Linked DNA regions of Homo sapiens: all the other regions are linked to region 1. Evidence: fine-mapped expression QTL. A gene starts in region 1. Each other region holds a variant in brackets. All regions are shown on one strand. Distances are between the middles of the regions. Region 1 holds the start of UHMK1 (U2AF homology motif kinase 1). Region 2 overlaps UAP1 (UDP-N-acetylglucosamine pyrophosphorylase 1). Region 3 holds the start of SH2D1B (SH2 domain containing 1B).

Region 1 (2,764 bases):
AAGGTTGAATGACTGAAAAGTAAAGAAGGCTACATTTCTTACACACTCGAGTTTGTGGATTGAGATGCCTATTTGCTACATTTGTTACTCAATAAACGTTTGCTGAATGAATAAAATAATTGAATAAATAAATGAAAAATAAAAATTTGGAACAGATCCGTGTTTGCCCAGGGTGAATGCTTTTTGATGAGGGAGCCATAGGCAAGGTGGACTATGTTGATAAAAAGAGTTAAACTCTGTAAAATATTTGAAGAGATTTATTCTGAGCCAACTATGAGTGACCATGGTCTGTGACACAGCCCTCAGGAGATCCTGAGAACATGTACCCAAGGTGGTTGGGGTGCAGCTTGGTTTTATACATTTTGGGAGACATGAGACTTCAATCAAATATATTTAAGAAATACATTGATTTGGCCCAGAAAGGTGGGAAAACTCGAAGCGGGAATTGGTGGGGGGAGAAATGGGTCCTTCCAGGTTATAGGTAGATTTAAAATTTTTCTAATTGGCAATTGGTTGAAAGAGTTATCAATAGAAAGGAATGTCTGGGTTGTCATAAGAACTTGTGGAGACCAAAGTTTTGTCATGCAGATGAAGCCTCCAGGTACCAGGCTTCCAAGAAAATAGATTGTAAATGTTTCTTACCAGACCGAAGGTCTGTGTTGACCTTAACCGGAGAGGTATGAGGCTAGTCGGACCCCCACTTCCCGTCATGGACTGAACCAGAATTTTAGAGTGCCCTGGCCTGGGAGAAAGTCCATTCCGATGGTTGGCGACACGGGGGGCTTAGAATTGTATTTTCGGTTTACATCTAAAAGAAGAACAAAGGTCTAGGCTTCCAGAATCATGGGTTCTGGTGACCGTGGACCTGGAGGTGATGGTAAACTCTCTTTTTGTTCCTGGGGTGTTTTCCTTGGGATCCTTTCTATGAGAAATGTAGGCCGGGTTTTATTTTTCGGGTTCCTAGTGGTGAGGTAAGGTGAGGTGCCTCAACAAGAAAAAGGACCAGTTTTGGCTTCAGGTCTATGTGAAAGCGGTTAACACTGGGCCTGGAATGGTAGATACTCAATAATTAAGGTTACTTCTTATTCTCGGTTCTTTTTTCCAAACCTAGCGCGTCTAATCTCTTCTAGGCCCCGCCCCTTCTGAGCCCCCCCTCCTTCGGCCTGTATGATAGGCTCTTCCTCCATTTCCGGCTTCTGGGACTCGGGTGCACCACGGCTTCCGGTGTCATGGCTGCTTGAAGTCCCGGGAGTCGGTGAGGCGGCTGCAGGTCCCTCCCTGCGGAGCCGCTGGTCCGGCTGGCGGAGATGTGACCGCGGGCCCGGCCGGCCTGCCTCAGGCGTCGCGTCAGCTCCCGTGTCCGTGCCCTTAACCCACACCGATGGCGGGATCCGGCTGCGCCTGGGGCGCGGAGCCGCCGCGTTTTCTGGAGGCCTTCGGGCGGCTGTGGCAGGTACAGAGCCGTCTGGGTAGCGGCTCCTCCGCCTCGGTGTATCGGGTTCGCTGCTGCGGCAACCCTGGCTCGCCCCCCGGCGCCCTCAAGCAGTTCTTGCCGCCAGGAACCACCGGGGCTGCGGCCTCTGCCGCCGAGTATGGTTTCCGCAAAGAGAGGGCGGCGCTGGAACAGTTGCAGGGTCACAGAAACATCGGTAATTGCCGCTGTCTCCTTTCTCTTCTTGCCCAGGTCACAGTCCGAGCACACTCTTCCTCTCGCTGTCTGGCGTTCCATCTTCCTCCCCTTCTGCGGGAGAAGCGGGTTTAGCCCTCTTTATCACCCCATCCAGGCCCCTTTCCCCTTTCACTTTATTACTGTCTGCGGTATAGTGGAGTTGGTGGTCTGCTTTGCCAGGTGTCACATAGATGCTCAGTAAATTGTCTTGCTTCGAGTCTCATCGGAGAATGCCGCATTCATTAGCATACAGAAATATCTTTTCTAGTGAGAGGAGGCATGTCTTTGCTAGATTGTCGTGTCTTGTGTGGAAATTTTTGAATCTTTGCATACCAGTAGAAAATGGGAACTACGTCTGGGCCTTGTGACATCAATGCTAGTAACTCGTATAGCTCACCTATTATATCTTTAGTACGGATTTGGAAGAAATGATGCACTATTCCATGGGAGCCTTTATAGAAGTGTGAAATTTAGGAACACTATACCTTTGCTCTCTTGAGACTGTTTCAAGAATCAGATACTCAGAATGTAAGATATGTAATGATCACTGATGATTGATCTGTGAAAAGGTTTCATTTTCATTACACGACAGAAAGCTTATCATTAGTTATAGCTTTGGTTATTAAAGAAAAGTCTTATTTCCTAGCAAGTATGATGCATAGTTAATTTGAAGAGTGAGTTTTTTTATAATATCATTTTGGAGAAGAATTAACACTAGTGCTACATTTTTTTAGTTTACTAAATGGTCTGTTACTATAACCTTGGTATTGAAAAGGGAAAAATTTTGCAAGCCTAGGGACTTGCCTGATCTCTGCAAGATTAAAATTTCATCCGAAAAGTCTTAATCTCTTTGTTAGTATTTAGATTATAGAGAGCTGTTTATTTTTGTTTTAGTTTTTTTTTTTGAGACAAGTTCTTACTCTGTCACCCAGGCTGGAGTACAATGGCGAGATCACAGTTCACTCCAGCCTCCAATTCCTCCTAAAGCCATGCTCCTACCTCAGCCTCCCAGGTAGCTGGGACTACAGGCACGTAGCACCAAGCCTGGCTAATTTTTTGTAGAGAAGAGGTCCCCTTTTGTTACCCAGGCTGGTC
Region 2 (2,764 bases), 89 kb after region 1:
TTGTTGCCCCAGCTGGAGCGCAATGGCGCAATCTTGGCTCACTGCAATCTCTGCCTCCCAGGTTCAAGTGATTCTGCTGCCTCAGCCTCCTGAATCGCTGGGATTACAGTGCCTACCACCATGCCTGGCTAATTTTTTTTTTTAATTTTCAGTAGAGATGGGGTTTCACCATGTTGGCCAGGCTGGTCTTGAACTCCTGACCTCAGATGATACACCCACCTCAGCCTCCCAAAGTGCTGAGATTATAGGTGTGAGCTACCACGCCCGTTCTATACTTTATATCTTTTCTGTATAATATAAATGGATTCCCACTTCATTCAGTTTACAAATGCTTTCTTCTGTAATGTAGACTTTTAAAATATTTAGAGGTTAATAGTTGCCATAGAAGTAAACCTTTGGGAAATGTAAAATGTGAATATGTATATTTTTATTTTTATGGCTGGTTGGGAGTAGGAGTATATAGTGGTGACTGGAAAATAAACCTGTGTGCGTTAAAAAAAAAAAAGAGAGAGAATAAGGGGAATCTATCCCAAATTCCCTGCCTAGTAAGATACCCACTGTAGGTAGAGTACATGAAGTAAGAGATGGTGATGGGTTGGTAGATAAGAATTGTAAATAGGCCCATGATTGATTTAAATAATTTGCTGCATAATGTTCCCCTTCAGTTTAATCTACTTCCTCGGTAGAAAGTTTCTTTTCATTAAGAACTGTGTTCCTTTCAGGGTGGCAAACAGTGAACCACACAACAGGCTTACTTATCCAGCAGTCCTGCCTCACTGAGCTGGACTCAGTGCCTATATCTCTAATTGCTGTGTAAATGAAGTTCTCAATAGTGGCTTTAGTTTTCTGGATGAGACTGTTACTGACTGTATTTATTTTAAGAAATCAGTTGTTGAAGAAAAGTCTTAACTTTATTAATATAATTTCATGTCTACTTAGGATAGACTTGTCAAATTGGGGACAGAGTTTTAAACATATTTTGAAGCATGCTGAATTGATAATTAGACTGGACAAACAAAACAATACCTTCAAATAGATAGGGATTTTTGAGACAGGGTCTTACTCTGTTGCCCAGGCTCGAGTGGAGTGCAGTGGTGCAATCACGTTTCACTGTAGCCTCAACCTCCCCAGACTCAGGTGATCCTCTTTCCTCAGTCTCCCTAGTAGCTGAGACTCCAGCATGCCACCACGCCTGGCTAATTTTTTTATTTTTTAAATAGAAGCCAGGGTTTCACCTTGTTGCCTAGGTTGACAAATATTTTTTATTGTTTGTTTCTTCGGTTGGATATTTATCTTATCTGAACCTTGATTTTATATTAGTGCATTGCATATAGTTCTTTTATAATTTTCTTCTAAACACTTAAGTCAGTGATGTGTGGGATTAGTGTGGTGGCATACCAAAATCACTTGTGAGGTTTTTAAAAATTACATATTCTTAATTTTCCCTCTGATT[T/G]TAGTATACCCTCTTTTCTCAGCTCCCCATCAGCCCAGAGCCATTGATAAATTATCACATCACTGGTTTTCAGAATTATTTTTTTGAAGTATAGAATCACTTATTTCAAACAAAATTGAGTATACAAAACAGATAAATATGGGTGGGTTTTCTAATTAAAGTTGGAGTGGGAGGCTAGTGACCTGCCTGCTCTAAACCCCTTTACCTCCTACTCAGGTCCCTGAAACACAAGGAAAATGCCAAAATTAAAGAAATGCTTTTTTCAAATGAAATATCGGGCAATAGAAAATGAGAGACAAAATGCCTAACTTAGGTCTTTTGTCTTGTGAATCCCAGAGAAATTTCATTTTATTTATTATGAAAGTAATTGAGGTGGTTAAGGATAAATTAAATAAAAAGTACAAGATACATGGGGGATGTTGACTCCTGATGTAATTATTCCCACTCCAATGTGATTTACTCTGTGCTAGATATATGTATATGATGGAATTTCTAGCCCAAGGTTTAGTTAGGTGATAAATAGGAAGGAAATAATATACCTCATTTCCAGTTGGAAAGTGCCTGTCAAGGTATATAAAGATGGATAGTTGATTGTCTAAAGTTAAAGATTCTTCTTGGCTTTATACCTTTTAGTGTAAGCAAAGTTGTAAATGTCATCTTTGACAATGGCAAATCTCCAAAGAAACATTTAATTCAATTTCCTCCTCTACTGTTTTTCTCTGGTGGACAGGTGGTAGAGAAAACGAACCCTACAGAACCAGTTGGAGTGGTTTGCCGAGTGGATGGAGTTTACCAGGTGGTAGAATATAGTGAGATTTCCCTGGCAACAGCTCAAAAACGAAGCTCAGACGGACGACTGCTGTTCAATGCGGGGAACATTGCCAACCATTTCTTCACTGTACCATTTCTGAGAGATGTTGTCAAGTATGGGCAAGATGGGGGCCTTTTAAAATTATATTTATTGTTAATCAGAAACTAAGACACTTGAGAGGGATGCAGACACCCCAAGTCCATATCCCACAGAATTCATCTTTCCTGAGGATCACTTATCAAATGGACATTTATCTCATGTTGTGATTGTTTTTAGTAAGATGTATTGTAAGGTGGGAATCATCGGAGCCCATTCCCCAGCGCATTAATGGGAGGCCAAAGCATTTCTCCCTTCTCACCCTCCCACCCCCAACTATGTGCTAGGTTCTGTTGAAGCAAAGCATAAGAAATGAAACTTTCTTTACCACAGCTGTGAGCTTTTTAAAAATACAGATGTTCACCTTACACCAACTGAATTAGAATTTCAGGAGGTGGGTTCGG
Region 3 (2,764 bases), 87 kb before region 1:
CTATTCCAAGGCCCATTTGTGTACTTCCTTGTAAAATCCAGTTTTAGCAAAGAACCCTACTAAGTCAGTTTGGCAAGGACCCCTCACCCTAGCTATCTGATCACTGTTGGATTCTGATCAGATTCCTCATCCTCCACCATCCCCCAGGCAACATCTGATCACCCGGGCCTGTCTTCAGCTACAATTCTGTTAGGCTGGTTTAGCCAGAATCCACTTTACCCCTGATGTTTCCTCCGAGTAATTTTCTGTCTACCGACAGCCACACTGCTCCTTGGCCATAAATTCCCACTTGTCCATGCTGGATTCAGAGTTGAGTCCAGTCTCTTTTCTGTGCCGCAAGAGCTCATTGCAGTGGTCCCTGTACCTTTGTGATGATCCTGAATAAAGTCTTCCCAACCATAATTTAACAAGTGACATTGAGTAATTTTTTTCTTTAACAAGAGACATTTGGATTTTAATTTCTGTTACAGGTATAATAAAAGGTTCAGTGGTCCCTACTTTACAAAGAGGAACATACATAAAGATAGGAGGTTTCTAGTGATTTCTGTTCAGGATTGCTTTCTAAACTGGGCATAAACAAGTTCCTTCAGCTAGGTCTCTTTGATACTGTGGCCTGGAATTTGTTTTTCTTTTTCTTTTTTTTTTTTTTTTTGAGATGGAGTTTTGCTCTTGTTGCCCAGGCTGGAGTGCAATGGCACAATCTCAGCTCACTGCAACCTCCACCACCCGGGTTCAAGTGATTCTCCTGCCTCAGCCTCCCAAATAGCTGGGATTACAAGCATACGCCACCACACCTGGCTAATTTTGTATTTTTAGTAGAGACGGGGTTTCTTCGTGTTGGTCAGGCTGGTCTCGAACTCCCGACCTCAGGTGATTCACCTGCCTCCGCTTCCCAAAGTGCTGGGATTACAGGAGTGAGCCACTGTGCCCAGCCACTCTTTTTTCTTTTTTTTGGACAGAGTCTCACTCTATTGCCCAGGCTGGAGTGCAGTGGTGCAATCTCAGCTCACTGCAGCCTCTGCCTCCTGGGTTCAAGTGATTCTCCTGTCTCAGCCTCTCAAGTAGCCAGTATTACAGGCACACGCCACCACACCAGGTTAATTTTTGTATTTTTGGTAGAGATGGGGTTTTGCCGTGTTGGCCAGGCTGGTCTCAAACTCCTGACCTCAAGTGATTCACCTGCCTCAGCCTCCCAAAGTGTTGGGATTACAGGCATGAGCCACCATGCCCAGCCTGGAATTTCATGTTTAACTTAGACTCTGGAAATTCCAAATGAGTTTTAACACAAACAAATTATTTGAGAAATTCAGGTCTCTGTTTCTTTACCTATGAAATGGTGACTGCTTATGCTTGCCTTGATAGACTACTAGGATGAAAGGAAATGACGAATATTGAAGTCCTTCACAAATCTAACAAAATGTGAA[A/C]TATGATTGTATTTATAGTTTACGTATTGCAAGCAGATGCTGCAGAATAAGTGTTTCAGATTGAAATTTCTTGAAGAACCCCTAGCCTTTTCCATACCAAATAAACAGATCTCTGGAGGACAGGACCTCTGACATTTGTACCTTCTTTCCATCCCTCTGTACCCCTGTACTTCCTGCAGCCCTTCCCTTCACCACCACCATGTCCCTCCTGCTGCTGCAGAGTCTGCTTGCAGGGCCTTTACACCAGGGAGAGCAGGCAGATGGAGGAGCATGGACAGATACATTCCTCTCCTGGCAGTGTCCATTACTTCTCATTCTACTCATTGAGACTCCAAAGTCAGAGTGAAATACTGAGGGATATGAATTCCTGTACTGTGTGGCAGCCATTGCCACATTCAACATACGATGTCAGATGTGTGCAAGATGAGGCTACTCACGAGACACAGAGGCACAGGACTCCTGGTATCGACTCGCTGTCTCTTAAAAGAAAGTTGCCATCCACCCCTTCCTTGAGCAGCAAGGTCTCACAGTCTTGCTTGGTCAGACGTCCATGGTAGTAAGGCAGATCCATGGAGAACGCTCTTGTATCCCAGGAAGCCCTGTTGGCCTGAAATTCACCCCCAAGTCAAGGGACAGCTCTGAGGAGAGATGTGTAAGCAGCTGTACCTCCTGTGGAGCTACCTCTTCCTCTAGCGGTCTGTGGGACTCAGCCAGCTTCACAAGATTCAGGAAATGAGGAGGGCGGGGTGATAAAATGACCAACACTTTTCACCCTCTAAATGGCCCACATGTGACTCACAGAAGTAGGTAAAGCACATTTAAACACACAATGGAATCAGTGATGCTCATGGCTAGGGAGGCAATGCTGAAGTCAAGCTTCCTGGAACTGTGTTGCAGCCTTGTATATTACCATGGACTATCATCAACTTCTTTGGCTACTGGTATCCTTTCCAGGAAGCACACCGCTGCTTTTGCTGTAATGGTACCCATTTTCTGCTGAAGTTGCCTAGGATTGGGCTATGCTTAGCTTAGACTGGGTGCTCAAAAACCATTTGGATGCTGAGAGAATTGATATGCTCAGATACAATGGGAAAATTGAAAGGGTGGGATTTCCGTGGATCAAATGACACTAAAAATGGAAGACATTAATGGCAATAAAAAACAGTGGGACACTGTGGATGAGGACAGCCCATTCCATGGCTAAGGCTCCCAGCCACTGGTGAAAAAAGGCCATTTGAACACCCTCAAGCATTGTTCCTTTTGGAGAAAGGGCTGGTGTAGGTGGGAGGGATATCTGGGTATACTCATATATCTACAGAAAATCACTATATATATCTCAA

Evidence for each region. PIP is the estimated chance that this variant, and not a neighbour inherited with it, causes the effect.
Region 2: its variant is the best candidate, but not a certain one, in a credible set for the expression of UHMK1 in whole blood (INTERVAL, PIP 0.76).
Region 3: its variant is the best candidate, but not a certain one, in a credible set for the expression of UHMK1 in whole blood (TOPMed, PIP 0.75).

The regions. Positions count from the first base shown.
Region 1 is chr1:162,496,620-162,499,383 of GRCh38, forward strand. UHMK1 (U2AF homology motif kinase 1) reads left to right here and starts at 1,199. Exons shown (of 8, transcript NM_175866.5): 1 at 1,199-1,649. The coding sequence starts at 1,382. RefSeq lists enhancers at 935-1,435, 1,170-1,249, 1,436-1,936.
Region 2 is chr1:162,585,292-162,588,055 of GRCh38, forward strand. It overlaps UAP1 (UDP-N-acetylglucosamine pyrophosphorylase 1), which reads left to right. Exons shown (of 11, transcript NM_001324116.5): 6 at 2,184-2,377. Among named protein-coding and RNA genes, the nearest start is that of UAP1, 25 kb to the left of the region's middle. The variant T/G (reference allele first, on the strand shown) is at 1,454.
Region 3 is chr1:162,410,022-162,412,785 of GRCh38, forward strand. It overlaps SH2D1B (SH2 domain containing 1B), which reads right to left and starts at 2,115. Exons shown (of 4, transcript NM_053282.5): 1 at 1,862-2,115. The coding sequence starts at 1,995. The variant A/C (reference allele first, on the strand shown) is at 1,425.